Regions from separate parts of the Homo sapiens genome. Here region 1 is linked to region 2. The links come from fine-mapping of genetic effects on gene expression. Tissue or cell type: whole blood. Region 2 holds a variant in brackets; the other region holds the start of a gene. All regions are shown on one strand. Distances are between the middles of the regions.

The links. PIP is the estimated chance that this variant, and not a neighbour inherited with it, causes the effect.
Region 1: TENT2 starts here. The variant in region 2 is fine-mapped to the expression of TENT2 in whole blood (TOPMed, PIP 0.97).

What each region holds. Positions count from the first base shown.
Region 1 is chr5:79,611,176-79,613,934 of GRCh38, reverse strand. TENT2 (terminal nucleotidyltransferase 2) reads right to left here and starts at 1,494. Exons shown (of 15, transcript NM_001114394.3): 1 at 860-1,494. LOC124901014 (a long non-coding RNA gene) reads left to right here and starts at 1,598. Exons shown (of 2, transcript XR_007058840.1): 1 at 1,598-1,793; 2 at 1,915-2,464. RefSeq lists an enhancer at 690-1,889.
Region 2 is chr5:79,638,972-79,641,730 of GRCh38, reverse strand. TENT2 (terminal nucleotidyltransferase 2) reads right to left here. Exons shown (of 15, transcript NM_001114394.3): 5 at 766-880; 6 at 535-626. Among named protein-coding and RNA genes, the nearest start is that of TENT2, 28 kb to the right of the region's middle. The variant G/A (reference allele first, on the strand shown) is at 1,274.

The sequences.
Region 1 (2,759 bases), 28 kb after region 2:
CTAGAATGAAAACCAGAAATTTACTGGCTAAACCAAGATACTGTCCATTTTGTCCAAATACCTTTGATATCTCAAACCCACTTTTCTCCACAATACGAAAAATCCAGTTCCTAAATCCTGCCAACCCACTGTGAAAACTACTTCCAGGTTTTGAACAGGATATTCCTTTTGGTTAAGAATTAAATTACACCCAAGTGTTCAAAAAAATAATCTAGTCACATGGCTCCAAATGGGCATTTCTTAAACAACTCATAAACGGCCTATTTCACATGGAACCTGTTACAGGACATTTCCAGAACAGACATAATTAGGGCTATTCACACCAACAAAGTAACGTCACTATTACTGGCTATTAATCAGTATAAATTAATAGCCTTATGGCTGTTAATCAGTACGTGTTAGAAGCCTGGTGGTACTGAACCATACAATATGAAGATATTTACAAAAGTTACTATGTTACCTGTAATATAAAAACACAGATTTAGTAATCAGTTACAATCTCTTTCTTCACAAAATCATACACTGCACATGTGTTATTTAGCTTGTGTTTTACAGTTTCCCTTTGTTTCTTCTCTGTTCACCCTAATGAAAAATATCTGCTACTTTAAACAAAGAGTTGAAAGAGATAAGACAAGTAATTTAGAGAATCCATAAGTTTTGAGACATATAAGCCTTTCGTGTTCTCACCTTGAGAGACGAAGAGCTTTTCTACAAAGGCTGAACAAGAAAAGAAACGCACACAACAGTCTTAACCTGTGCATTTTCCTATAAAGTGAAAAGCTGAAGCAATTTCATGCCATTTAATTAAGGCTTAAAAGATAAATGCCTTTTAAATTTTTTAATTAATCCAGCTACGTACCTTAGTTCTTCACCACCCTTTGAAACACCATGCAAGGGTCCCAAGACTATCTTCCTCTTTTGGTCCTGGAGTGGTGGACGAGGCAGTACGCGAGGAATAGAAAACGAGTAAGCAAAGTAAGCGGTCCTAAGATTCTTCAAAATGTACAGCAGCCCAGATGCCGCCCATAAATTTGGAATAACCAAGAGATACTGCTGGAACCTCCCACGCAAAACAAAACGCTACCGTTTCGGAAAAGTTTCCCGTGCCCCGCCGCCGACCTGGGCCTACACTGCTGCGTTCCTCTCCGAAACCCCCTAAACTCACAGGTGTCCTCCGGGAAGGGCTAAGCAGGGCCTACCCGCACTGCCCGTTCAGAAGTTCTAAGGCCCGAGCTGGGCGTACTTGGTCGTAGCTTTCTCCCGAACCAAAGGAGGTAGTGGTGGCCCGTGGGACAGCTAGGCCCAGCTCCGGCTCCGGCTGAGATCTAACCCCCCTCACGGCTGCCAGGGGAGGAGCAACACAAGAAAAGGTAGGGGCTGCAAGGATATAGAAGGTTGGGGGCGGTGGCAAAAAGCGGAAGAGCAAAAAGTCGCCGAAAAAGCGGCGTAGAAAACCCTGTCAAAGACACCCGGAAGACCGACGTGACCCCGGATGAGAATAGGCAGCGGGGAGCGAAAGGTCACACTTCCGGTGGCCGCCTCCCTCCCACCCCCCAACCCCCCCCACCCCCCAACCCCCCCCACCCCCCCCACCCCGCCTATGAGCGCTTTGCTTGAATGCGCAGGCGCAAGACAGCCGGATTTGAAAGGAGTTTCTTAACTGCTGCCAGCACAAGTTGGGAAAGGGTTAGGACTGCACTAAGAGGGGTGGAGCAGGCAGTCGCCGGAGGGCCACTTCTGGGCCCCTTGCCTGAACTCACGTGCAGCCGTTCTAGCTGTAACAGACGTTTTCTGTGGGTCCTTCGTGTGTTGGCCGAGTGACTTGTCCCCAGAGAAGCCTTTCTTTAACCAGTGTTCCCCTAATCTTCTCCCCCGGAGCAACATTAAACTTTATCTGTTCTTTTGCCCCTCCAGTAACCTGAGAGCTTCTTTGGAAGGAAAATGCTTTCTTTGGCCGGACGCGGTGGCTCACCCCTGTAATCCTAGCACTTTGGGAGGCTGAGGCGGGCGGATCACGAGGTCAGGAGTTCGAGACCAGCCTGGCCAACATGGTGAAACCCCATCTTTACTAAAAATACAAAAATTAGCCGAGCTTGGTGGCGTGCGCCTGTAACCCCGCTACTCAAGAGGCTGAGGCTGGCGAATCGCTTGAACCCGGGAGGCGGAGGTTGCAGTGAGCCGAGATCGTGCCACAGCACTCCAGCCTGGGCGACAGAGCAAGACTTTGTCTCAAAAAAAAAAAAAAAAAAAAATGCTTTCTTTCTCTCTAAAGCCTGGACTTAGCGCCTTGCCCATAGTAATAGCTGGTATTCACTAATTCAACAAATATTTATTGATATCGCCTCTTGAGTGAGCTTTAATAATTTGTAGAAATGTCTAAATTGTTTAATAATGCAAATCTGTTAGCTGTATTCCTTTATTGTCCACTTAATGTCTATAAAATCTGACCCCTCAGGTTCTGAAATTGGTAATTTGTGTGTCATCTTTTTTTCTGATCGATCTGGTGAGGGGCTTCTCGGTTTACGGATCTCAAATCTCAAAGCCCGTTTTTGCTTTCTTGGATTTTCTCTACTGGTTTTCTGTTTTCTATTTTATTGATTTCTGCTCTTATGTTTATTGTTTCCTTTACTCTGCTATTTTTTAATTTTTAAATTTCTTGTTTTGTTTCTCTAGTTTCTTAACTCAGAAACTGATGACCATTAATTTTAGATGTCTCTTGTTTGTACAGGCATTTGGTGTGATAAGTGTCCCTCTATACT
Region 2 (2,759 bases):
GCTAAAGAAAAAGAAAAAAAAACAAAGGCAAAATGTCATTCATAGAGAAAAATATTTTAAATTTAATAAACACGAGTCTTATTTTAAATTTTAGTGAAATCTATTTTCCCTTAATAAGCATTTTCAAAGAGAAAAAAAGTAAAGATTAAAAATAGAATCAGTGAGAATTCAAATGGAAAGGAAATACATCAAGAAGATAATATTGCCACATACTCTTCTTTGCTGCATCCTGGTAACATATCCAAACTAATGACATTTCAAAACAGAGGTAGAGCTCTTGAAAAAAAAAAAAACACATAGTGAAGCCATCTCACTTTAAAAACTTAGAATTAAATTAATGCTATACTTCCTATTATGCTTATTGTGCACATGCCTTAAAAATAAAAAATTACCTAGGTTTCCTGCAATTATGGTAAACAAAATTCAAAGAAGTAATCACAACAAAGCAAGTTTTTTCCCTCAATGACTTTTATGTAAAATTTCTTAACTCATTAACATGAGAAACACACTTGGAATAAATGTTTCCTTACTTACTGGTTCTTCCTTAACAACTAGGCATAAATCACCATCACTGCTCCGGGTACCAAATCCATTTAAAGAGGACCCAACCAAAAAAAGTCTGCTTTCTAAAGAAACAGAAGAAAGTAATAAGAGTATTTAAAATCTAAAGTAGGTGCATGGTTCTGTGCCTATTAAAAAAAAAAAAGATAAAATTTAAAATAGGAATGCATATACCTAAAGGACATGCAAAATAGGGAAACATACGTGGAAATAACAGCTGAATTTCTCTCTGCAGCTGTGTTCGACAGAGTTCTTTCTTCTTTAAATCACTTATTTGCTGCTGACATGTTTCAAATAACTCCAGTATCTGCTGACTCAACTTGAATCCACCGCAAAAAAAAGTAAAAGTTTTGTTCAGCAATGTAAAAGTAATTGCTATATGGAGAAGCATAAATCAATTATACTGACACTATTTTAAAAGGGAGTATGTATTATCTTCTTAATATTTCCCAAAACAAAGCTACTATTACTCAAGTACAGGAAGAGAATGGTCTGAAAAACCACACATAAATTTTACAAAGTAAAATATACAAGTCACAGAAAAGTACAGTCACAGATACTTCGTAATAAAAATAATCCATGGGTCAGCAAACTGTTTAACACTTGCTCACTTTATTAGTATGGCCCCTGAGAAAAGAATTTTTTTATATTTTTAAAGGATTATGAAAACAAACAAATAAAAATATGCAACAAACAATATGTGAGTGGCAAA[G/A]CCTGAAGTATTTACTATCTGGCTTTTTAAAGAAGTTTGCCCAATCCCTAGTATTCACACCCACAAATACCAAATATAAGAGATGTCACCAGTCCCCGGTCTTCCAGGCTCATGCAAACCACCCTCCATCCCATTCTTCTAACAATGCCCTAAACCCTAACTTCATGTTGCCATCGACTTACCACCTTTTTTTTTTTTTTTTGAGACGGAGTCTTACTCTGTCACCTAGGCTGGAATGCAGTGGTGCGATCTCGGCTCACTGCAACCTCAGCCTCCTGGGTTCAAGCGGTTCTCCTGCCTCAGCGTCCCAAGTAGCTGAGAATACAGGCATGTGCCACCACACCCAGCTAATTTTTCAATCTTTGTAGAGACAGGGTTTTGCCATGCTGCCCAGGCTGCTCTCGAACCCCTGACCTCAAGTGATCTGCCTGCCTCAGCCTCCCAAAGTGCTGGGATTACAGGTGTGAGCCATCACACCCGGCCCTACCACCCTTTTATCTACTGATCTGGTTCACACTTTTCCCTCCAGCCCAACTCTTGCCATCAACATAGGTGATTTCCCTATCTGAAATGGGCTACATATCACAACATACTCCCTTTCCGGACTTTTATTTCCTCCAGTATTCTTCATCAGTATACACTCCTATAATGTGGTCTTTACAATAAACTGGAACTGCTCTAGCTCTGAAATTTTAAATTCCAATATAATATCTTGGCTTCAATCTTCTATCCAGTTCACACTTTCTCACTCTCCTCATACCTGCTCTAGAACCACAAGAGATCTAGATTCCCTTGAATCCTCCATTTTCTCCCAAGCCATCAGCATAAAAATGGTGTTATTTCTTTCCCTATGCAGTCTATACTACACAGTGCATCCCTTGAACCACTCTCTTATCGTGCCTCAACAACATTATCTCCTTGTCATGTTCTAATACTTGTCCTACAAAACCCTAATCTTAGGTCAATATAAAAAAAAAAAACCACCTTCACTGCTCTTACATCTAAGTTGCTAAGAAACAAAACTGAAAAAAAAATTAAAAATCATAAAATTGGAGTATTTCAAGTTTATAGTCTTAGGTTGGCCCTTAGCATCACTTAGCAATTACTTCCAAGTCTTTGGTTAGATATCACTTCTGTTTTTCATACCATTCCAAAATGTTTACTACCTTTTTCAAGCCCTCTAAACTTATCTCCCTTTCTCTAGCAAATACAGTTAAATTAAAGTTTACTAAGAAAATTGAGAATACCAAATGTGATATTCCTCAGCCTCTTAACCACAGACCTAAAAATGAACATATCTGGGGAAAAAAAAAAAGGCGTCCTTTTCCCCTGTTCAAAGCTAATCTCTCTACCAATAATTTTGTATTCAAGCCTTCTGGTCACCTTAAGGGCACAAACACGTCTACCAGTATTTCAGTCCTGCTCCTGTATTTTTAATCTCTCCCTCTCTAGGACTGCCTTATAGTCCATAATGAGGCAAAAGTAT